4 linked regions of the Homo sapiens genome follow. The protein of the gene in region 1 interacts with the protein of each later gene in a biochemical or structural test. Each region holds a gene or a part of one and is shown in the gene's direction. Other genes may lie near its edges.

The links.
Region 2: the proteins of CAV1 (region 1) and PTGS2 form a complex in vitro, tested with the Homo sapiens proteins (2 studies listed by BioGRID).
Region 3: the proteins of CAV1 (region 1) and CSK form a complex in vitro, tested with the Homo sapiens proteins (one study listed by BioGRID).
Region 4: the proteins of CAV1 (region 1) and ABL1 interact on a protein array, tested with the Homo sapiens proteins (one study listed by IntAct).

The regions. Positions count from the first base shown.
Region 1 is NC_000007.14:116,528,030-116,535,064, forward strand, and holds part of CAV1 (caveolin-1), read left to right. Parts: intron 1-7,035. UniProt on the Homo sapiens protein: May act as a scaffolding protein within caveolar membranes. Forms a stable heterooligomeric complex with CAV2 that targets to lipid rafts and drives caveolae formation. Mediates the recruitment of CAVIN proteins (CAVIN1/2/3/4) to the caveolae.
Region 2 is NC_000001.11:186,671,278-186,677,445, reverse strand, and holds the end of PTGS2 (prostaglandin G/H synthase 2 precursor), read left to right. Parts: intron 1-529; coding exon 530-613; intron 614-732; coding exon 733-979; intron 980-1,261; coding exon 1,262-1,548; intron 1,549-2,049; coding exon 2,050-2,197; intron 2,198-2,683; coding exon 2,684-3,093; 3' UTR 3,094-5,655; downstream 5,656-6,168. UniProt on the Homo sapiens protein: Dual cyclooxygenase and peroxidase in the biosynthesis pathway of prostanoids, a class of C20 oxylipins mainly derived from arachidonate ((5Z,8Z,11Z,14Z)-eicosatetraenoate, AA, C20:4(n-6)), with a particular role in the inflammatory response.
Region 3 is NC_000015.10:74,799,057-74,803,709, forward strand, and holds the end of CSK (tyrosine-protein kinase CSK), read left to right. Parts: intron 1-215; coding exon 216-435; intron 436-1,355; coding exon 1,356-1,449; intron 1,450-1,624; coding exon 1,625-1,690; intron 1,691-1,766; coding exon 1,767-1,866; intron 1,867-1,955; coding exon 1,956-2,046; intron 2,047-2,465; coding exon 2,466-2,539; intron 2,540-2,638; coding exon 2,639-2,834; intron 2,835-2,940; coding exon 2,941-3,027; intron 3,028-3,274; coding exon 3,275-3,457; 3' UTR 3,458-4,141; downstream 4,142-4,653. UniProt on the Homo sapiens protein: Non-receptor tyrosine-protein kinase that plays an important role in the regulation of cell growth, differentiation, migration and immune response.
Region 4 is NC_000009.12:130,880,254-130,887,288, forward strand, and holds part of ABL1 (tyrosine-protein kinase ABL1), read left to right. Parts: intron 1-246; coding exon 247-411; intron 412-3,715; coding exon 3,716-5,430; 3' UTR 5,431-7,035. UniProt on the Homo sapiens protein: Non-receptor tyrosine-protein kinase that plays a role in many key processes linked to cell growth and survival such as cytoskeleton remodeling in response to extracellular stimuli, cell motility and adhesion, receptor endocytosis, autophagy, DNA damage response and apoptosis.

The DNA.
Region 1 (7,035 bases):
TATTTACTAAAAACATTACCTTAAAGGGAGAGGATATTTGTGTTTTCCCCCACCCCCACCCTTCTCATGTGGCTTTGAACAAGAAGGAGAGTTGCCAGGAAAAGAGGCAGATTTCAGAGAGGGCTGGCTTCACTGGATCCTCCCTGTTGTTCCACTGCACTGTGAGTGAGATTCCCTGGAGCAAGCGAATCTCCCGGGATGAGTCAGAGAGGCCAACAGTGTGGATGTGGGTCTCCACACATAGCATGACTAAGTTGAGAAAGAAAGGCCCCACTGGGAAAAGAGACTTCAACACAGATGGAAAAAAAACATAACAGGCTTGGAGGAAATAGCAGTTTACAAAACAGCATTTCAAAGAGCAAGTGTGGGGATCCTCAAATTAAAGAAATTAAAAGAAAAAGCTAGAGCAAGCTCCTGCTAGCCTAAAGAAACCAAACCCTGACTACTTGCTCATAGAACTGTGAGCAAAACAAGACAGTCAAACCAAAAAATCCACCTAGAAAAGAATTTGGCAGTCTCACTCAGATGCCTGGCCTAGAGGGGACTTCAGAGAATGCCCTACAGAGAGACACCAAGACTACAAATGCAAATTCTGCCCAAAGAGTGCCTGGCCGATGAACAGGGTCCTATCTACATCTTATGGAGACTCCTATTTTATAAATATGTATCCTCAAGTCCAAGCACAAACAAAATAACAGAAACAGGGATGATTCTCTCCCAGTTTCCATGACAGTAAATAATAAATTTCCCTAAATTTTACTTTCAACAACATAGACTTTTTTTATTTTTATTTTTATTTATTTATTTATTTATTTTTTGAGACGGAGTCTCACTCTGTCACCCAGGCTGGAGTGCAGTGGCATGATCTGGGATCACTGCAACCTCCACCTCCCAGGTTCAAGCAATTCTTCTGTCTCAGCCTCCTGAGTAGCTGGGACTACAAGTGCACGCCACCATGCCGGGTTAATATTTGTATTTTTAGTGGAGACGGGGTTTCACCATGTTGGCCAGGCTGGTCTTGAACTCCTGACCTCAAGTGATCCACTGGTCTTGGCCTCCCAAAGTGTTGGGATTACAGATGTGAGCCACTACACCTGGCCAACAACACAGACTTCTTAAAAAAATCATGACAATAATTTTGGGTGCTTCTTAAAAGCACCCAAAGCTTTACTGCTAATGCATGGTAGCTTAAAACTTCACATAATAAGAAAGAACCAGTGGCCAATGGAATCTACTGTTAAAGGTACCCAATCAAGTAAGGAAAAGTTGGTCCTAAAAGCAAGCAGCCCTGTAAAAGCTGCTCTGTCCAATATGGTAATCACTAGCCATTTGTGTTTCCATTTAAATTTCAAGTAATTAATATCAAGTAAAATTTAAAATTCAGTTCCTTAGTCACACTAGCCACGTTGTGAGTGTGCAACAGGTAAAGCTAGTGGCACAGACATAGAACATTTCCATCAGCACAGAAATCTCTATTGGACAGTGCCAGATTAGGGTGTTCTCTGCATTGTAAAAGCATCCCCTTGCCAAGTTAAAGAAAACAACAACAAAACTCTAGAGAAGAAATGAAACCCCAGTTTCATTTCTGGAGAGGAAAGAAAACTCATGTGTGGCATGAGTTTATATTCAAGAAGGTGCAGCATTATTACCTATTTTACTAGTAATAATGACACACATTATAGTATACAATCCAGTTCCAATAAAATTAATTTCTCATCTTACTAAAAGCTTGCTGCTCCACATTATGAGACAATTTACCCAAATATAGACATTTACCCAAAAATATTAAGTAGCTTGTGAATACTTTTTAAAATTTCCTTTAATTAAAGTGGTCACAAACTCAAACCCTTCATTCTCCCTCTGAGATTTCTGTGTCATCTTTTGTTCACATTGTTATTCACATGTTTATTATGTACTTATTTTGATTTTCTAGATAAATAAAATGGCTTCAAATCTATAATTCTGATAAAATTAGCCATCAATTAATTTATTTATTAAACCCATGCAATATGCTAGATTAGATGCTTTGCTATGTAATTCCTACAATAAATCCTAGCAATCACAAAGATTACAGTTAGTGAGACGACATGCACACAGGTAAAAAGTGTTTTTAAAAAATACATACATACAACCAAAACAGTAAGTCACTGCTACATGGAAACTGATTGGTCCTTTTTCCTTTTTTTTTTTTTGCCTTGACTGCCAGGAAGCAGTTTCAAATCTATAGCTGGATTTTAAGTTTCATTAATTCATGTTCCCACATATGGTTCTGTATTTTCACTTCCCCCTTTTAACTGACATACTGTCTTATGTGATCTCTACTGTAAGCCTTCTCATCATTTTGGAAACAGACCAAATATAATATATATGATAAGGAATCAAAAGTAAATACAGTAGTGTTGAATATTGCATAACAAAAAGGTTTTTAAATAGGGAATGGTATCAATATGAAGTGTTAGGGAGACCCAGCCATGAAAAGGATAGCAGGGTCAGAGAAGGAGGATGTATTGCAGCTGGTTTAATGGAGAATGGTATGAAGGAGGTGCAGTTTGAATTGGGTCATGGAGGACAGATGGATTGCAAATAGCTGGGGCAAAAGCACAGGAAGGCATTCTAAACGAGCCAGGCATGGAGACAAGAATGTCTCCCACAAGGGAGTTGTAGTAGCTCAATCAGACTGGGATTTGAGATTTCATGTGGCAGAGTGGTAGGTGATAAAGGTGAAAAGACTGATCATAGTAAAATGCGGAGTCTGTAAATCCAGCACTCATGATAAGTTTGGACATCATGTCAACAGTGGACAGCCATAAATGACTGCAAGCATCGGTGTGGTATAATGAAGGTGACGTTTTTGTAAAATGACTCTGGTGAAGGTACAGAAGGTAATGAAAAGTAGCCAGTCTAGTTGAGCAGAAAAGAGTTCAGATGTAATTGCATCATGGTCCAGATGTGAAATGAAGACAATGCGAAGTGGCATTGTGGATCGAAACATACATGCACAAAATGACAGAATTTTAGAATTTGAAGGGATCATCATGGTTACCAGGCTGGCCTCCAATTCCTCTTTTGTAATATTAATAGAAATTAAGGGCTAACAAGTTTAAAATGTTATCCATCTTTTTACATAGTTACTGCCCAAAGTGAATATTTTGAAATGTATCATTAAAGAAGAATAGATAAGATTATGTGATTCACCATGGACTATTGTCATGAGAGGAAAAATGTGTTTAGATGATTCTGTTAGCACTGAGACAAATCAGGATATCTGAAAGGAGGTCTTTGTTGAAAAACAGAAATATGCATTCATAACTTGCTTTTCTAAAATTGGAATGTAATGATTCTTAAATATGCACAGACACAAATTTTTCTTTAACAGTCAAGAAAATGCACGCAGGTGATAATCAGATCAGTTTTGGTTATAGTACAAAGGTTTAATGCCTCCGTGATCCCTTTCAACTTGAAAGCATTCTAGAGCAATTGGTGATTAATATCAGTATAACAGTCATTTATAAAATTATTATTTATTTGATATACATCTAATCAAAGCATAAGATTTATTTTTATTATTATTATTATACTTTAAGTTTTAGGGTACATGTGCACAATGTGCAGGTTAGTTACATATGTATACATGTGCCATGCTGGTGCGCTGCACCCACTAACTCGTTGTCTAGCATTAGGTTTAAAAGATCAGATTGTCTCGGCACCATGTTAATATCTTTTTCTGTTGGCATTAGTATTAGTTTTGCTTGTGTATTTGTTTAGGAGATAGCTTCACAAGTTGGTGATTGATATTCTACCATGTATGAAGTCATGCGTGGAATTCAGAATCCCCAGCTTGTAAAATTGCATTATGATCATCTTTAGTGGGAAATTGTTCTCAGAATACTGAGCAAAGGATGATACCAAAATGGCAGCTATTATTCATTCTTAAGCATATGAAATGCTTTCAGGTTCAACCCAAAATTACATACATTTTAAATGCTTACTAAAAGAGTCTTTTCCCTCCTCCATCTATTAACTGCAATCAAAAAACTTCGGTTTTAACTGAACATGATTTCATATTATTTATTAAAATTTAAGGCAAGGTGCACCAAGTACCCTTGAATTATGAAAAGCTTCATGATGTGGGATATTCTTTCAGTTAACGGCAGGGTTGGCTACACTTTTAAGGGGTTCAAAGTAGGAACAGCTGCAATAGTGAGCTGCATCTGGAAAGTCCAGTAATTTGAAAAACCACCTGTTTATGTATCCTGCCCACTCAAGTCCATAAAATAACAGACACTTTCATATTCCAAATGAAACTGCTTTTTAGTTTGCCCTACTTTTAAACATAACTCTTTGTGATGGAATGACCAGAAACAGCTGGTCTCTAAGAGGACAGGGCTATGTGCGCTCACCTGCGGGGTTGGACCTTCCATAATCCCCCTGGCTGTGGGGAAAGTTGAGGGCTGCTGTCTTTATACAAAGATGGTTTATTCCAAGATACACACACTCTTCTTCCACACCCTGGAGACCTTGCATATTTAGTATCTTCTTTACCATAATCTGAGGCCCTAGAGAAAAAGATTTGCAAACTATACTTGTTTTAAAACAACTTTCTAAAAAAGACACTCTCAGCCCCTAGAAATTATGCCTAACACATAGATGCTCAGAGGCAACCTGTTGTAGTGCAAGAGGATTGTGCCAAGATTAGAAAACAAATATTTGCAACTTTTGTAACTGTCTTCTCTAAAACTTGAATGTGGTGATTCTAAAGTAAAGACCGACACAAAATTCTTTTTCTTTAGCAGTCAGGAAAAGGCATGCATGAAGTAATCAGATCAGGTGTGGTTTCAGCATAATGGCCTAATGCTTTCATGATCTCTTTCAACTGGAAAGCGTTCTAGTCCCACTGGACACCAAGGAGGAAGAAGGGACGGAAAATATTAGGCCCATAGGTTTATCTTCCTCAGTAGTCCACGAGATTTGAGCTTATATGTAGGGAGCAAAATTGTTTGTCTAAAAGCAGTTAATAAATGCCCCAAAAAGGCTGGGCGCAGTGACTCACTCCTGTAATCCCAGCACTTTGGGAGCTCAAGATTGGTGGATCATGAGGTTAGGAGAGCAAGATCATCCTGGCCAACACGGTGAAACCCCATCTCTATGAAAAATACAAAAATTAGCTGGGTGTGGTAGCGCGTGTTTAATCCCAGCTACTGGGGAAGCTGAGGCAGGAGAATGGCTTGAACCCAGGAGGCCAAGATTGCAGTGAGCCAAGATTGCGCCACTGCACTCCAGCCTGGTGACACAGCGAGACTCCGTCTCAAAAAATAAAATAAATAAAATAAAATAAAATAAAATAAAATAAAATAAAATAAAATAAAATAAAATAAAATAAAAATAAAATGAACGCCCCAAAAATATTTTGGGCAAACTATTTTGTGTTTCTTTTCTTTATTTATTTATTTCTTTTGAGACAAAATCTTGCTCTGTTGCCCCGGCTGGAGTGCAATGGCACAATCTTGGCTCACTGTATCCTCAACCTCCTGGGCTCAAGCAACTCCTGAGTAACTGGGACCACAGGGATGTGCCACAATTCCCGGCTAATTGTTTTAGCCAGGATATAAATGCTGCCTACATAGAGTTTGTAGCTATCTCCTTGACTTTCTTTATGCAGATTCCTTCACAAACTTTTGATGGATTCCTTTACCAAATTCTACTGTCTGTTAAAATCTTCTATCTTTATATCTTTAGTCCAAACAACACGTCATTTATAAACCTTAAAATTGTTTCTGGGCAAATAAACAAGGCAAAATAGGAATATATATTTTTAGGCAATTTACTTCTGTTTTGGTCTCATAAAAAATTGTAATTAAATTGTAGAAAATATTTCAATTCCTCTTTAATATCCTCTCCTCACATACTGGCTCTCAACTTCTAATCCTCCTATTGAAACATTGATTGGGAGGCCAAGGCAGGCGGATCAACTGAGGTCAGGAGTTTGAGACCAGCCTGGCCAACATGGTGAAACCCTGTCTCTACTAAAAATACAAAAGATTAGCTGGGCATGGTGGCATGCACCTGTAGTCCCAGCTACTTTGGTGGCTGAGGCACGAGAATCGCTTTAACCCGGGAGGCAGAAGTTACAGTGTGCCAAGATCAAGCCACTGAACTCCAGCCTGGGCGACAGAGTGAGACTCCATCACAAAAAAATAAAAATAAAAATTGAAATTTGCAGCCTTTTTAAAACCCCATAGCCTCTTTATAAACCCAAAAGCACTATCAAATTTGGCGAGGTGTCAAAAGAATCAGAGGAATGTTTACAAATACAGATGCCTGGGCCCACCTCAGATATATATATATATATATATATATATATATATATTTTTTTTTTTTTTTTTTTTTTGAGACGATGTCTTGCTCTGTCACCCAGGCTGGAGTGCAGTGGCATGATCTCAGCTCACTGCAAGCTCCGTCTCCCGGGTTCACGCCATTCTCCTGCCTCAGCCTCCCAAGTAGCTGGGACTACAGGCGCCCGCCACCACGGCTGGCTAATTTTTTCTATTTTTTAGTAGAGACAGGGTGTCACCGTGTTAGCCAGGATGGTCTCAATCTCCTGACCTTGTGATCCGCTCGCCTCGGCCTCTCAAAGTGCTGGGATTACAGGCGTGAGCCACTGCACCCGGCCCAGATATATTAAATTAGAATATCTAGAGGTGGAGCCTGAGTATCTGTATTTTTCAGAGTTTCAAATGATCGTTCTTCAAATGATTACACTGTGAAGTCAGATTTAGAAATGACTGTACCCAAGGTTGGCTAAAAGATACACACCCTGGTTGATTCTACCTGAAGAGAGCAAATAAGATACACAGCAAAGTTGTAGATGTTTTCCCTGCCAGTAGAATACTTGCGGGTTAGGCCATTTAAAACCCTGCCAGAGAGTTTTGAAACACTGTGGAGGGCTCCCAAATCAACTTGCTCAATGGTTCTCCATCCCTTCAGGCTACTTGGGCTTAAAGCCAACTGCAAGCTTAGAGCCTCAGAGTGACCTAG
Region 2 (6,168 bases), on another chromosome or scaffold:
ACACATATATAAACATTCACACACATACATATGTACAGGTATTGTTATTTGTAATTTGACCCTTGTATTTTTTAGTTTAAAATGTTAGTACTGCAAAATGTTATGTCCTCAAAAACACATTGTACCATGATTATGCCGCTTTCAATATTGTAAAGTGAGGTTTTTGCCGCATTATTATTTTTTGGATTTCAATAGCATAGCTTCAAGTTATTCGTAAGAATTTTTTATAAATAATACATTTTTATACTTTTTTATAATTACCATATCATCATAGTGAAGTATATAATATATATGATATAAGCTCAATATAGTATATTAATTCCGTTAAACACAAAGACATATCAGTTTGTAGCTTTGGTGGATAAACAAATTAATTTAGCAATTCATGGCTATGAAAAATGTATATTTTATTTAAAAATTTTAAAGAAAGCTAAATGATCAAATTATTTAATGATGAATTATATGATAGACACTTTATATAAGAAAAACTTCAACAGCAACAAATTAAAATTTTTTCATCATTTTCTAGGTGGACTTAAATCATATTTACGGTGAAACTCTGGCTAGACAGCGTAAACTGCGCCTTTTCAAGGATGGAAAAATGAAATATCAGGTATGCTTCCTTTGACTATTAAGACTTAGTTATTACCGCTTATACCCATATTTTAAAATCCCTAAAAATGTGTTCCTTAACTTTTTAACTGATGTTTATTTATTTATTTATTTTTTTAGATAATTGATGGAGAGATGTATCCTCCCACAGTCAAAGATACTCAGGCAGAGATGATCTACCCTCCTCAAGTCCCTGAGCATCTACGGTTTGCTGTGGGGCAGGAGGTCTTTGGTCTGGTGCCTGGTCTGATGATGTATGCCACAATCTGGCTGCGGGAACACAACAGAGTATGCGATGTGCTTAAACAGGAGCATCCTGAATGGGGTGATGAGCAGTTGTTCCAGACAAGCAGGCTAATACTGATAGGTAAACAAGAAAATGATTTATATAAAACCCTCTTCCCCAGGGAAAATTAGTGTGCTATCTTTGTTATGTTTTGAGTAAATGACAAGATGTGGTAAATGAAAACTCACACATTCTATATACATTAAATATGTAAGCATGACTGATAAAATAGCTATCTTTTGATACTGACAAGGAAGAAAACAGAAATGAAGGAATAGCAAATTTTAAAAATTGCATTCCAGTTGCTTGAAAGCTTGTGATCAGATGCAATAAATGTTTTTATTATTTATTTTGTGCAAATAGGAGAGACTATTAAGATTGTGATTGAAGATTATGTGCAACACTTGAGTGGCTATCACTTCAAACTGAAATTTGACCCAGAACTACTTTTCAACAAACAATTCCAGTACCAAAATCGTATTGCTGCTGAATTTAACACCCTCTATCACTGGCATCCCCTTCTGCCTGACACCTTTCAAATTCATGACCAGAAATACAACTATCAACAGTTTATCTACAACAACTCTATATTGCTGGAACATGGAATTACCCAGTTTGTTGAATCATTCACCAGGCAAATTGCTGGCAGGGTAAGCATTATTATTGAAAACCAAAACAAAAGACTAGTCAGTAACTTTAGAATTTCTGCCACGGAAATTATTTTTCTTAAACTTACTAAAAGAGTAGTTAGTTATATTGCTAGTAAAATTATTTTATTGATATAAGAAGCCTAACTTTGTTTGAAAAGTCTAAACTTTTAGTCTAGTCTACAGTTGTCAGACAAATAGCAAATTGTACCCCTACCTTAAAAATATTTTCAAAAAGTATCTATAATCTTATAGGAATAAATATTTTAGGCTTGAATACTAGTGTTATTTTTGAAATGTAAAAAGGCAAATTAGTTCTAGGCTGGTGTCCCATTGAATTTTAAGCAGAGCTCCTGTTGAAATGTAGGTAAGCATCTTTCCAGCAAATAAAAATTGTCTCCGCTGGGAGTTTCAGTTTTACCTGATTTGTACCTAAGGCAAGCTGAATACAAACAGTAAATATGCCTAAAATTCTTGTTTTACAACTAATTTTACTTTCCACAGGTTGCTGGTGGTAGGAATGTTCCACCCGCAGTACAGAAAGTATCACAGGCTTCCATTGACCAGAGCAGGCAGATGAAATACCAGTCTTTTAATGAGTACCGCAAACGCTTTATGCTGAAGCCCTATGAATCATTTGAAGAACTTACAGGTAAGAAACAGTTTCTAAACTTCTTCGTTTTTTGTTTGTTTGTTTGTTTTTGTTGTTTTTGGTTTTCTTTTCGAGATGGAGCCGCCCTCTGTCACCCAGGCTGGAGTGCAGTGGCGCCATCTCGGCTCACTGCAACCTCCGCCTCCTGGGTTCAAGCAATTCTCCTGCCTCAACTTCCTGAGTAGCTGGGACTACAGGCTCACGTCGCACGCATGGATAATTTTTTGTATTTTCAGTATAGACGGGGTTTCACCGTGTTAGCCAGGCTGGTCTCAAACTCCTGACCTAGTGATCCGCCGGCTTCGGCCTCCCGAAGTGCTGGGATTACAGGCGTGAGCCACCGCGCCTGGCCCCTAAACTTCTTAAAAGAATCAGGGGTCAAATGGAAACAGAGAAGTTGGCAGCAAATTGAGCAAAAGAATCAAACTGTTTTTTATTTTGTGAAGTTTGACATTGGTTGTATCTCTGTCTTCATCGCCTTCACAGGAGAAAAGGAAATGTCTGCAGAGTTGGAAGCACTCTATGGTGACATCGATGCTGTGGAGCTGTATCCTGCCCTTCTGGTAGAAAAGCCTCGGCCAGATGCCATCTTTGGTGAAACCATGGTAGAAGTTGGAGCACCATTCTCCTTGAAAGGACTTATGGGTAATGTTATATGTTCTCCTGCCTACTGGAAGCCAAGCACTTTTGGTGGAGAAGTGGGTTTTCAAATCATCAACACTGCCTCAATTCAGTCTCTCATCTGCAATAACGTGAAGGGCTGTCCCTTTACTTCATTCAGTGTTCCAGATCCAGAGCTCATTAAAACAGTCACCATCAATGCAAGTTCTTCCCGCTCCGGACTAGATGATATCAATCCCACAGTACTACTAAAAGAACGTTCGACTGAACTGTAGAAGTCTAATGATCATATTTATTTATTTATATGAACCATGTCTATTAATTTAATTATTTAATAATATTTATATTAAACTCCTTATGTTACTTAACATCTTCTGTAACAGAAGTCAGTACTCCTGTTGCGGAGAAAGGAGTCATACTTGTGAAGACTTTTATGTCACTACTCTAAAGATTTTGCTGTTGCTGTTAAGTTTGGAAAACAGTTTTTATTCTGTTTTATAAACCAGAGAGAAATGAGTTTTGACGTCTTTTTACTTGAATTTCAACTTATATTATAAGAACGAAAGTAAAGATGTTTGAATACTTAAACACTGTCACAAGATGGCAAAATGCTGAAAGTTTTTACACTGTCGATGTTTCCAATGCATCTTCCATGATGCATTAGAAGTAACTAATGTTTGAAATTTTAAAGTACTTTTGGTTATTTTTCTGTCATCAAACAAAAACAGGTATCAGTGCATTATTAAATGAATATTTAAATTAGACATTACCAGTAATTTCATGTCTACTTTTTAAAATCAGCAATGAAACAATAATTTGAAATTTCTAAATTCATAGGGTAGAATCACCTGTAAAAGCTTGTTTGATTTCTTAAAGTTATTAAACTTGTACATATACCAAAAAGAAGCTGTCTTGGATTTAAATCTGTAAAATCAGTAGAAATTTTACTACAATTGCTTGTTAAAATATTTTATAAGTGATGTTCCTTTTTCACCAAGAGTATAAACCTTTTTAGTGTGACTGTTAAAACTTCCTTTTAAATCAAAATGCCAAATTTATTAAGGTGGTGGAGCCACTGCAGTGTTATCTTAAAATAAGAATATTTTGTTGAGATATTCCAGAATTTGTTTATATGGCTGGTAACATGTAAAATCTATATCAGCAAAAGGGTCTACCTTTAAAATAAGCAATAACAAAGAAGAAAACCAAATTATTGTTCAAATTTAGGTTTAAACTTTTGAAGCAAACTTTTTTTTATCCTTGTGCACTGCAGGCCTGGTACTCAGATTTTGCTATGAGGTTAATGAAGTACCAAGCTGTGCTTGAATAATGATATGTTTTCTCAGATTTTCTGTTGTACAGTTTAATTTAGCAGTCCATATCACATTGCAAAAGTAGCAATGACCTCATAAAATACCTCTTCAAAATGCTTAAATTCATTTCACACATTAATTTTATCTCAGTCTTGAAGCCAATTCAGTAGGTGCATTGGAATCAAGCCTGGCTACCTGCATGCTGTTCCTTTTCTTTTCTTCTTTTAGCCATTTTGCTAAGAGACACAGTCTTCTCATCACTTCGTTTCTCCTATTTTGTTTTACTAGTTTTAAGATCAGAGTTCACTTTCTTTGGACTCTGCCTATATTTTCTTACCTGAACTTTTGCAAGTTTTCAGGTAAACCTCAGCTCAGGACTGCTATTTAGCTCCTCTTAAGAAGATTAAAAGAGAAAAAAAAAGGCCCTTTTAAAAATAGTATACACTTATTTTAAGTGAAAAGCAGAGAATTTTATTTATAGCTAATTTTAGCTATCTGTAACCAAGATGGATGCAAAGAGGCTAGTGCCTCAGAGAGAACTGTACGGGGTTTGTGACTGGAAAAAGTTACGTTCCCATTCTAATTAATGCCCTTTCTTATTTAAAAACAAAACCAAATGATATCTAAGTAGTTCTCAGCAATAATAATAATGACGATAATACTTCTTTTCCACATCTCATTGTCACTGACATTTAATGGTACTGTATATTACTTAATTTATTGAAGATTATTATTTATGTCTTATTAGGACACTATGGTTATAAACTGTGTTTAAGCCTACAATCATTGATTTTTTTTTGTTATGTCACAATCAGTATATTTTCTTTGGGGTTACCTCTCTGAATATTATGTAAACAATCCAAAGAAATGATTGTATTAAGATTTGTGAATAAATTTTTAGAAATCTGATTGGCATATTGAGATATTTAAGGTTGAATGTTTGTCCTTAGGATAGGCCTATGTGCTAGCCCACAAAGAATATTGTCTCATTAGCCTGAATGTGCCATAAGACTGACCTTTTAAAATGTTTTGAGGGATCTGTGGATGCTTCGTTAATTTGTTCAGCCACAATTTATTGAGAAAATATTCTGTGTCAAGCACTGTGGGTTTTAATATTTTTAAATCAAACGCTGATTACAGATAATAGTATTTATATAAATAATTGAAAAAAATTTTCTTTTGGGAAGAGGGAGAAAATGAAATAAATATCATTAAAGATAACTCAGGAGAATCTTCTTTACAATTTTACGTTTAGAATGTTTAAGGTTAAGAAAGAAATAGTCAATATGCTTGTATAAAACACTGTTCACTGTTTTTTTTAAAAAAAAAACTTGATTTGTTATTAACATTGATCTGCTGACAAAACCTGGGAATTTGGGTTGTGTATGCGAATGTTTCAGTGCCTCAGACAAATGTGTATTTAACTTATGTAAAAGATAAGTCTGGAAATAAATGTCTGTTTATTTTTGTACTATTTAAAAATTGACAGATCTTTTCTGAAGATAAACTTTGATTGTTTCTATACATCTTTGTCATATGACATAAGATTTCTCTGAAGCATTACTCTTAAACCATTATCTTGCATTCTCCTACCTATTCAAAACTAGGACTGGCCCTTCATGAAATGGTTTTGCCCTCAATTATATAGAGGCTTCCTAGAGTCACTATTTAAATCTCATAATCCTTATTCACTGCGACACTGTGTTGGAAAATGTCTAGTTTGTGTATCTTTACAGAAGATGGCAAACAAGCTTATTTTCATTGCCTAGTCTAGAAGAAGAAGAAAAAAATACACAATAAGGCAAAGAATAAGACATATATTATGAAGGGGGCACAAAGTTAAGAAGTTCAAAGAGGAGGAAATTATACAAAGTTGGGCAAATCATTGATGCAAAAGCTCATAGGCTTTTGTTGTACCTCTATCCTTGACATCTTGGTAATTTCAATATCTACATGGACCACATATTTAGCATCTTCCCTGGCCTCTCCTCTTTGGCCTTCTCCATTCCAGGGATGGCCTCTTCCACCATATTTCCT
Region 3 (4,653 bases), on another chromosome or scaffold:
AGGTGCAGGGTGCGGGTGCGGGACCTCACAGAGCAGGGCTGGGGGCAGAGGCAGGAGGGTGGCAAAGAAGGGACAGGGAGCAGAAGAAGAGGGCCTCAAATGCCTGACTGAGCGAGTGCGAGCCACGGGTGCCAAGCAGAGGGAACCCCTTCAGAAAGGGGAGCCAGGGTCAGTACCTTTGGGCCACCATGACCTCCAGCCCTGCTGCTCCCCAGTTGGTTCCACGGCAAGATCACACGGGAGCAGGCTGAGCGGCTTCTGTACCCGCCGGAGACAGGCCTGTTCCTGGTGCGGGAGAGCACCAACTACCCCGGAGACTACACGCTGTGCGTGAGCTGCGACGGCAAGGTGGAGCACTACCGCATCATGTACCATGCCAGCAAGCTCAGCATCGACGAGGAGGTGTACTTTGAGAACCTCATGCAGCTGGTGGAGGTGAGCTGGGGGGTACAGAGCCTTGCTCCCACCCTCACACACCCTAAACCCATCTGGGGCCCTGGCTTCTAGCTCCAGCCCCACTGCTTCTGCGTGGTGACCAGCCATGTGGGGCAACTTCTGTGAGCCCTTGTTTCCTCACACCTTGGTGGAGCAGCTGCTGCGTGCCAGGACTCACCTCTGACCCCACAGTGCCACCATGAGGAGGGGAGCCTTATCCTCATTTTATAGACCAGGAGTTGAAGGTTCAGAGCAGTTAGGGGACCCACCTGAGGTCCCACAGATATAATTTGGTGCCAGGACTAGAATCTGAGTCTGTCTGATCCCAGAGCTAACTTTCCTCCAGCCACTCACAGACCTGCATGCTCAGAAGCGTGTGCAGAAACATGAGCCATGCGCCTTGATCGCCAGGGCCCCTGAGGCTCTCGCACCTGCACGGACATGCCCACAGGTCCCTGCAGCTTCCCAGGCCAGCTCTGCCAGCCCTGGCCAGGCCACACCTGGCATCCGGTAGCCACAGGAAGCCTCCCGTGTCCCTCTGTATTCACTCTTATCTCCCTCCCCTACTGGCCTGGCTTGGCCTGTGGCAGGTGAGGGTGGGGTCCTGGGCACTCCTGGCTAGAGGCTGGTTTCAGGACTGAGCCATGGGTTGCCCTCTGCATCAGATACCCATGGGGCCCAGAGTGGTAGCAGCAGCTGAGTGTCCAGCAACCGCATGTAGGGTGGCATGGGAAATGGGCCATACGTCATAATCTGGGACTTCCCTAACCCCTGCCCTACCAGAAATGGGGAGCCCTCCCCACTCAGTGACTCCAGGCTAGGCGGGGCTGGCCTCTGCCGCCCTCTGGTGGTCAGGCCTGGACGGTGCATATGGGGCACCTTGGGCTGTCTCTGAGCACCCTGCCCCCCACACCCTGCAGCACTACACCTCAGACGCAGATGGACTCTGTACGCGCCTCATTAAACCAAAGGTCATGGAGGGCACAGTGGCGGCCCAGGATGAGTTCTACCGCAGTGAGTGCACCCCACCCCAGACCTCTTGCCCACCCACCTCCTCCCACGCAGGCTTCCTGGCACTGCCCCATCCAGGAACCTCCAGAGAACCCCAGTGCCTGATAGTCCAGTCAGCCTCTGTCATCCCAGCCATGTCCCTAGTGGCCTCCAGGCCCTCACTGGCCCCTCCCCACAGGCGGCTGGGCCCTGAACATGAAGGAGCTGAAGCTGCTGCAGACCATCGGGAAGGGGGAGTTCGGAGGTGAGCTGGGCCGGGCCCCCTGGGGGGGTTCTGAGGGACTCCGAACTTGGGAACAAGACCACCTCTCTGCCCCCAGACGTGATGCTGGGCGATTACCGAGGGAACAAAGTCGCCGTCAAGTGCATTAAGAACGACGCCACTGCCCAGGCCTTCCTGGCTGAAGCCTCAGTCATGACGTGAGTGGGGGCGGGGTAGGGGGGAGGTTGGCCTAGGTTAGGAGTGAGGCACCAGCTTCCCCTTTCTGACCACTCTCGTCCTGCCCCAGGCAACTGCGGCATAGCAACCTGGTGCAGCTCCTGGGCGTGATCGTGGAGGAGAAGGGCGGGCTCTACATCGTCACTGAGTACATGGCCAAGGTGGGCACCTGCCGAGACCCGGCACTCAGGCCTTCCAACTGCCCCGAAACCCCCACTGTGCTCTAGGGCCCCTGCTCCCTCAGTCCCCCGACCCCAAGTGAGCTTTTAGGTCACCAGGGCTGGGCTTTTGTCCTGGTTTACCATTCATTGACTGTAACATTGGACAAATCATGTCACCTCCAAGCCTCAGCATCACATCTGGGAAATGGAGATAATAACAACTTAGAGATTTGTGAGAGTCAAGGGATAAGGCATGAATAACACAGAGCAGTGTCCGGCATGGATGTTCTGGCCCCTCCCCACTCCTTCCCTGTCTCACACCTCCCTGGAGTGTCAACACCCACCCGGCCCCAGCGTGCTGTGTGAGAGGGCTGCAGGGCACGTCTGACCTCGGCCTGGTCTGTCCTTCCTGCCCCCAGGGGAGCCTTGTGGACTACCTGCGGTCTAGGGGTCGGTCAGTGCTGGGCGGAGACTGTCTCCTCAAGTTCTCGCTGTGAGTGAAGCAGCCTCTTGGATGGGTAGGGTTTGAGGGGTACCCTGCCCTGCTATGGGAGCCCCAGTCTGAGGGGACATGTGGCTGGCCTACCCCCAGAGATGTCTGCGAGGCCATGGAATACCTGGAGGGCAACAATTTCGTGCATCGAGACCTGGCTGCCCGCAATGTGCTGGTGTCTGAGGACAACGTGGCCAAGGTCAGCGACTTTGGTCTCACCAAGGAGGCGTCCAGCACCCAGGACACGGGCAAGCTGCCAGTCAAGTGGACAGCCCCTGAGGCCCTGAGAGAGAAGGTGGGGCTGGCCTCCCCTGGGGCCTACAGAGGTGGGCAGGAGTCCTGGGTCACTCCCCACCCTGGAGTCCCAGGATCTGACGCTGCTTCTTCCATCCACATGGCAGAAATTCTCCACTAAGTCTGACGTGTGGAGTTTCGGAATCCTTCTCTGGGAAATCTACTCCTTTGGGCGAGTGCCTTATCCAAGAATTGTGAGTATGGGTACTGGGATCAGGGTGGCTCTTGGAGCACCGGAGGGGTTGGCAGGGGCGTGAGCCTCCTTGGGCCCTGCCTCCCCAATCAAGGCCTAGAAGCCTCAGGCCTGCCCTGGGGAGCTCACAGGCCACTCTCCGGGCCTGGGTCTGCGGCAAAGCTGATGGGCATCCCTGAGAGGCTGCTGGGTAGGTGTCCTCTCTGAGGCCAGGGCCTGGACTGACTCCTGCCTCCCCCTGGCCACAGCCCCTGAAGGACGTCGTCCCTCGGGTGGAGAAGGGCTACAAGATGGATGCCCCCGACGGCTGCCCGCCCGCAGTCTATGAAGTCATGAAGAACTGCTGGCACCTGGACGCCGCCATGCGGCCCTCCTTCCTACAGCTCCGAGAGCAGCTTGAGCACATCAAAACCCACGAGCTGCACCTGTGACGGCTGGCCTCCGCCTGGGTCATGGGCCTGTGGGGACTGAACCTGGAAGATCATGGACCTGGTGCCCCTGCTCACTGGGCCCGAGCCTGAACTGAGCCCCAGCGGGCTGGCGGGCCTTTTTCCTGCGTCCCAGCCTGCACCCCTCCGGCCCCGTCTCTCTTGGACCCACCTGTGGGGCCTGGGGAGCCCACTGAGGGGCCAGGGAGGAAGGAGGCCACGGAGCGGGAGGCAGCGCCCCACCACGTCGGGCTTCCCTGGCCTCCCGCCACTCGCCTTCTTAGAGTTTTATTCCTTTCCTTTTTTGAGATTTTTTTTCCGTGTGTTTATTTTTTATTATTTTTCAAGATAAGGAGAAAGAAAGTACCCAGCAAATGGGCATTTTACAAGAAGTACGAATCTTATTTTTCCTGTCCTGCCCGTGAGGGTGGGGGGGACCGGGCCCCTCTCTAGGGACCCCTCGCCCCAGCCTCATTCCCCATTCTGTGTCCCATGTCCCGTGTCTCCTCGGTCGCCCCGTGTTTGCGCTTGACCATGTTGCACTGTTTGCATGCGCCCGAGGCAGACGTCTGTCAGGGGCTTGGATTTCGTGTGCCGCTGCCACCCGCCCACCCGCCTTGTGAGATGGAATTGTAATAAACCACGCCATGAGGACACCGCCGCCCGCCTCGGCGCTTCCTCCACCGAGCCTGCTTGTCCTGCCCGGTCGTCCCTCCCATGCCATCTTGTCCATCCCCCTGTGTCTGTGAGTGGGGCTGGGTGGGGAGCATGGCTGGGAGATGTAGCCGCCGCTTTGTGTCAGCTGCACGAGTGAGTGTCCTTGTGTCTGCCCTCCGGGAAGTGCTCACCAGTTGCCCTGCTGCCGCCAGGCCCAGCTCCGGGGCCCCATCTACAGGATGCTGCCTGGGGGTTCCAGCTGCCTCCCCTGCTGTTTTCAAGCCTGCCGCACAAGGAGGGCTACAGCTAGGGATGGGAGGGAGCCCAGGCCTGCACAGATGGGAACGGGGTTCTAGTCAAGCCCCCTGTGCAAGAGAGAGAAAAAGCAATGGTGGGCCCAGTGGGCTTCCTCTGGCAGGAGGAGAAGTGTCTCATGCCTGAGAAGATGCTGACCCGGAGAGGGACGGGAAAGCTCCTGGTGGTTCTCCAGTTTCACCCACGATGTCACAGCTTTGCCCTGTCCCCACCCCTGCCATGTGCCA
Region 4 (7,035 bases), on another chromosome or scaffold:
ACAGACCAGCCTGTCCTGAGACCAGAAAGCTGGGCAGAGGTGTGGAGTATTGTGCTTTCTTGTCTGCTGCAGCCCTGCAGAGTTCTAAGAAATGCTAAGGGCTGTTTCTCCGGTATCCACGTGCCTTTTCTTTAGTTGTATGCAGATGAGCACTGTTACCTTACAAAGAAAGAGAACCACCACACCAAGCCAACACCAGTACTGATGGCTGCTGGATTTTTGTTTCTGTCCCTGTATGATTCTTAGAAGTGGAAAAGGAGCTGGGGAAACAAGGCGTCCGTGGGGCTGTGAGTACCTTGCTGCAGGCCCCAGAGCTGCCCACCAAGACGAGGACCTCCAGGAGAGCTGCAGAGCACAGAGACACCACTGACGTGCCTGAGATGCCTCACTCCAAGGGCCAGGGAGAGAGCGGTAAGTCCCCCGCTTCCCCCAACCCCACTGCTCTTCCCTTCCCTGCCAGAGGCTACATTCAGGCCATCATAGGCCAACGGGAAGCTGTGAATGGAGCCCGCACAGAAGGGCAGCCATGGCCTTTGTCAATGGTTCAGCTTCGGAAGGAGGAAGGTTCTCCTCTCCCCACCTGCCTCCTATCCCCTCCCTCTGAGAGTCCCCGAGGAGCATAGGCTCCAGCAGTGAGTTCAGTCCTGTAGGCAGAGGTGCTTCTGAAGCCCGCCAAGGAGCTAGCCCATCTCCCACCTATTACCCGCGGCATCTGTGGTTGCTGTCTCAGAGCAGATTCAACAATAGTAAGCACCAGGCTGCGTGACAAGCAGCTCACGGTGAAGGCACTGATGTGAGAAGCTCGCTGCAGCCAGGTGGAACCAGGACACGCACATGGACAGAACCCGTGTCCTGGTGGTCTCTGGGAAGAGCATCTTTCTGGTGCCATTGCCTAGGCGAGCAAGGGAGTTGGGATCAGCTCAGGAGGGGGTCTCAAGACACTAGCAAAAATAATAATGGCCAACATTTATGTAGTGTGCCTACTACAGGCCAGGCTCTGTTCTATGTTCATGGTTGACCCCCAGAACCAGCAGTCCAGGTTCTGCTGCAGACCAGCTGAACAAAAGCATTGAGGGGTGTATTAGTCTGTTTTCATGCTGCTAATAAAGGTATACCCAAGACTGGGTAATTTATAAAGGAAAGAGGTTTCACTGACTCACAGTTCCACATGGCTGGGGAGGCCTCACAATCATGGCTGAAGGTGAATGAGGAGCAAGGTCACATCTTACTTGGCGGCAGGCAAGAGAGCTTGTGCAGGGGAAGTCCGCTTTATAAAACCATCAGATCTCGTGAGACTTATTCACTACCACGAGAATGTGGGAGAAACCTCCCCATGATTCATTGATCTCCACCTGACCCCACCGTTGACACGTGGGGCTTATTACAATTCAAGGTGAGATTTGGGTGGGGACTCAGCCAACCCATATTGGAGGTGGGGGGTAGGCCAAGCATCTGGGTTCACAGAGGATCCTGGGGATGGCAATGGTGGACTCCATTCTAATGGACTGCAGACTGGGTACATGTGAAGGGACTGGACAAAGCCCTACTTCTTGAAGATTTATGGTGGGATGTTTACTGACAGCAGAATCTATAAACCTGAGTTTTATCACGTACTCTCATTAGTAAAAAAAAAACAAAAAAAAACAGAACATGCAGCCCATATATATGGTATATAAAGTACGTATGTCCACTACTGTAGGAGTAGAGTGCGTATGTTATGTACCAAAACGCACATTTAAAAGGCTTGCATGCTAAATAAGTCCAAATTTGCAATACTTCCCGCCCCGCTGGGCCATCTCACTCACCTACTTGGAGGTTATGGCGTATAGACTCTCCAGAATCTTCCACCCTTCCTCCTCTTATCGGTTTTCCTGATTTCAGGTGGCTGAGCAGTAGGGAGGAGAGGCCTCTGGGAACGCTGTGCTTATTAAGAACCCAGTGATCAGCAGTCATGTTCATTTACGCCCGTCAGTTTCATCTGAGGGGTATTTTGATAGTGATCTCTTGGTGAGCCGAGGGTGTCAATTAACTGCTCAGTGCTGAAACTGAGTGGTGCATAATTCATTGCAATTTCACTCTCCTGGCCTCCTTCCACTAGATTAAAGTTTTGGGAGGGCTTTGGTGTTCCCTGATTCAGATGTCCCGCGTGCTGCCTTGGGTTCTGATAAATGCATACTGGTACCTCTGTTGAGTTACAGGTGCCAACAGAAAACCTCTTCTTGCAAGCTGACCTCTGAGGGAGAATTCTGTTACTCACTAGCAGGAGCTTGGCAACACCAAAAAGATTTCCTTTTTTTTTTGAGATGGAGTCTCACTCTGTTGCCAGGCTGGAGTGCAATGGCATGATACCAGCTCACTGCAACCTCCACCTCCTGGGTTCAAGCGATTCTCCTGCCTCATCCTCCTGAGTAGCTGGGACTACAGGCGTGTGCCACCACACCCAGCTAATTTTTGCATTTTTTAGTAGAGACGGGGTTTCATCATGTTGGCCAGGATGGTCTCTATCTCTTGACCTCATGATCCGCCCACCTCAGCCTCCCAAAGTGCTGGGATGACAGGCTTGAGCCACCGCGCCTGGCTACCAGAAAGATTTCTTATGAGCTATGATTCATATTTAAAGAGTGCCCATTAAAAAACTGTTGGCCGGGCGTGGTGGCTCACACCTGTAATCCCAGCACTTTAGGAGGCCGAGGTCAGCGAATCACAAGGTCAGGCTCCCGTGGCACAAGCTGGGGGCTGCCCCCACCCCATGCTCCCCAGAGGAGCACCCAAGCGTCTGGGCTCAGACAGGCCTGGATCTGATAACCGGCTCTGATGCCACCATCCCTGAGGCCAGGCAAGTCCCAGCCGGGCTACAGCACTGTTGTGAGAATGCAGATGAGGTTGTAAAGGTGAAGCACGTGTCACGCTTCTCTCAATAAAGCCATCATTGCTGTTAGGATTGTCATTAGGAAAGGCTTTGGGCCGGGTGCAGTGGCTCATGCCTGTAATCCCAGCACTTTGGGAGGCCAAGGCGGGTGGATCACCTGAGGTCAGGAGTTTGAGACCAGCCTAACCAACATGGTGAAACCCCGTCTCTACTAAAAATACAAAATTAGCCAGGCGTGGTAGCGGGTGCCTATAGTCCTAGCTACTTGGGAGGCTGAGGCAAGAGAACCATTTGAACCTGGGAGGCGGAGGTTGCAGTGAGCTGAGATCGTGCCACTGCACTCCAGCGTAGGCAACAAGCGAGACTCCAACTCAAAAAAAAAAAAAAACCACACACACGCTTTGGTCTCTTTCCCTGAAGATGGGAACAAAAAGCTGGACGGCCCTGGCCTCTTCATCCCTGCACTGGTTTACTTGAAGGCAGCAGCCCCCCACCCACCCACATCACTCTCTAGTGAGTATAAAAACGATGACAAGGCCAAGCAAAGGGTCAAAACCTGTGGCTCTCCTGCCAGCCAGCTAGCCGAGAGGCCTATGAGGAGCTCTGGGAATAAGGGGCTGTGTCCCACAGTGGGGAAGGGACAATGGGCCATTATGCACAGGAGATAAGAAGGGATGACCTTTGACAATTTTTTTGTTTGTTTGTTTGTTTGTTTTGAGATGGAGTCTCACTCTGTCTCCTGGGCTGGAGTGCAGCAGTGGCACTCTGCCTCCCGGGTTCAAGCGATTCTCCTCTGTCAGCCTCTAGAGTTGTCTGGAGTTGTCAGCTCTTCCCCTTGCGTTTCAGATCCTCTGGACCATGAGCCTGCCGTGTCTCCATTGCTCCCTCGAAAAGAGCGAGGTCCCCCGGAGGGCGGCCTGAATGAAGATGAGCGCCTTCTCCCCAAAGACAAAAAGACCAACTTGTTCAGCGCCTTGATCAAGAAGAAGAAGAAGACAGCCCCAACCCCTCCCAAACGCAGCAGCTCCTTCCGGGAGATGGACGGCCAGCCGGAGCGCAGAGGGGCCGGCGAGGAAGAGGGCCGAGACATCAGCAACGGGGCACTGGCTTTCACCCCCTTGGACACAGCTGACCCAGCCAAGTCCCCAAAGCCCAGCAATGGGGCTGGGGTCCCCAATGGAGCCCTCCGGGAGTCCGGGGGCTCAGGCTTCCGGTCTCCCCACCTGTGGAAGAAGTCCAGCACGCTGACCAGCAGCCGCCTAGCCACCGGCGAGGAGGAGGGCGGTGGCAGCTCCAGCAAGCGCTTCCTGCGCTCTTGCTCCGCCTCCTGCGTTCCCCATGGGGCCAAGGACACGGAGTGGAGGTCAGTCACGCTGCCTCGGGACTTGCAGTCCACGGGAAGACAGTTTGACTCGTCCACATTTGGAGGGCACAAAAGTGAGAAGCCGGCTCTGCCTCGGAAGAGGGCAGGGGAGAACAGGTCTGACCAGGTGACCCGAGGCACAGTAACGCCTCCCCCCAGGCTGGTGAAAAAGAATGAGGAAGCTGCTGATGAGGTCTTCAAAGACATCATGGAGTCCAGCCCGGGCTCCAGCCCGCCCAACCTGACTCCAAAACCCCTCCGGCGGCAGGTCACCGTGGCCCCTGCCTCGGGCCTCCCCCACAAGGAAGAAGCTGGAAAGGGCAGTGCCTTAGGGACCCCTGCTGCAGCTGAGCCAGTGACCCCCACCAGCAAAGCAGGCTCAGGTGCACCAGGGGGCACCAGCAAGGGCCCCGCCGAGGAGTCCAGAGTGAGGAGGCACAAGCACTCCTCTGAGTCGCCAGGGAGGGACAAGGGGAAATTGTCCAGGCTCAAACCTGCCCCGCCGCCCCCACCAGCAGCCTCTGCAGGGAAGGCTGGAGGAAAGCCCTCGCAGAGCCCGAGCCAGGAGGCGGCCGGGGAGGCAGTCCTGGGCGCAAAGACAAAAGCCACGAGTCTGGTTGATGCTGTGAACAGTGACGCTGCCAAGCCCAGCCAGCCGGGAGAGGGCCTCAAAAAGCCCGTGCTCCCGGCCACTCCAAAGCCACAGTCCGCCAAGCCGTCGGGGACCCCCATCAGCCCAGCCCCCGTTCCCTCCACGTTGCCATCAGCATCCTCGGCCCTGGCAGGGGACCAGCCGTCTTCCACCGCCTTCATCCCTCTCATATCAACCCGAGTGTCTCTTCGGAAAACCCGCCAGCCTCCAGAGCGGATCGCCAGCGGCGCCATCACCAAGGGCGTGGTCCTGGACAGCACCGAGGCGCTGTGCCTCGCCATCTCTAGGAACTCCGAGCAGATGGCCAGCCACAGCGCAGTGCTGGAGGCCGGCAAAAACCTCTACACGTTCTGCGTGAGCTATGTGGATTCCATCCAGCAAATGAGGAACAAGTTTGCCTTCCGAGAGGCCATCAACAAACTGGAGAATAATCTCCGGGAGCTTCAGATCTGCCCGGCGACAGCAGGCAGTGGTCCAGCGGCCACTCAGGACTTCAGCAAGCTCCTCAGTTCGGTGAAGGAAATCAGTGACATAGTGCAGAGGTAGCAGCAGTCAGGGGTCAGGTGTCAGGCCCGTCGGAGCTGCCTGCAGCACATGCGGGCTCGCCCATACCCGTGACAGTGGCTGACAAGGGACTAGTGAGTCAGCACCTTGGCCCAGGAGCTCTGCGCCAGGCAGAGCTGAGGGCCCTGTGGAGTCCAGCTCTACTACCTACGTTTGCACCGCCTGCCCTCCCGCACCTTCCTCCTCCCCGCTCCGTCTCTGTCCTCGAATTTTATCTGTGGAGTTCCTGCTCCGTGGACTGCAGTCGGCATGCCAGGACCCGCCAGCCCCGCTCCCACCTAGTGCCCCAGACTGAGCTCTCCAGGCCAGGTGGGAACGGCTGATGTGGACTGTCTTTTTCATTTTTTTCTCTCTGGAGCCCCTCCTCCCCCGGCTGGGCCTCCTTCTTCCACTTCTCCAAGAATGGAAGCCTGAACTGAGGCCTTGTGTGTCAGGCCCTCTGCCTGCACTCCCTGGCCTTGCCCGTCGTGTGCTGAAGACATGTTTCAAGAACCGCATTTCGGGAAGGGCATGCACGGGCATGCACACGGCTGGTCACTCTGCCCTCTGCTGCTGCCCGGGGTGGGGTGCACTCGCCATTTCCTCACGTGCAGGACAGCTCTTGATTTGGGTGGAAAACAGGGTGCTAAAGCCAACCAGCCTTTGGGTCCTGGGCAGGTGGGAGCTGAAAAGGATCGAGGCATGGGGCATGTCCTTTCCATCTGTCCACATCCCCAGAGCCCAGCTCTTGCTCTCTTGTGACGTGCACTGTGAATCCTGGCAAGAAAGCTTGAGTCTCAAGGGTGGCAGGTCACTGTCACTGCCGACATCCCTCCCCCAGCAGAATGGAGGCAGGGGACAAGGGAGGCAGTGGCTAGTGGGGTGAACAGCTGGTGCCAAATAGCCCCAGACTGGGCCCAGGCAGGTCTGCAAGGGCCCAGAGTGAACCGTCCTTTCACACATCTGGGTGCCCTGAAAGGGCCCTTCCCCTCCCCCACTCCTCTAAGACAAAGTAGATTCTTACAAGGCCCTTTCCTTTGGAACAAGACAGCCTTCACTTTTCTGAGTTCTTGAAGCATTTCAAAGCCCTGCCTCTGTGTAGCCGCCCTGAGAGAGAATAGAGCTGCCACTGGGCACCTGCGCACAGGTGGGAGGAAAGGGCCTGGCCAGTCCTGGTCCTGGCTGCACTCTTGAACTGGGCGAATGTCTTATTTAATTACCGTGAGTGACATAGCCTCATGTTCTGTGGGGGTCATCAGGGAGGGTTAGGAAAACCACAAACGGAGCCCCTGAAAGCCTCACGTATTTCACAGAGCACGCCTGCCATCTTCTCCCCGAGGCTGCCCCAGGCCGGAGCCCAGATACGGGGGCTGTGACTCTGGGCAGGGACCCGGGGTCTCCTGGACCTTGACAGAGCAGCTAACTCCGAGAGCAGTGGGCAGGTGGCCGCCCCTGAGGCTTCACGCCGGGAGAAGCCACCTTCCCACCCCTTCATACCGCCTCGTGCCAGCAGCCTCGCACAGGCCCTAGCTTTACGCTCATCACCTAAACTTGTACTTTATTTTTCTGATAGAAATGGTTTCCTCTGGATCGTTTTATGCGGTTCTT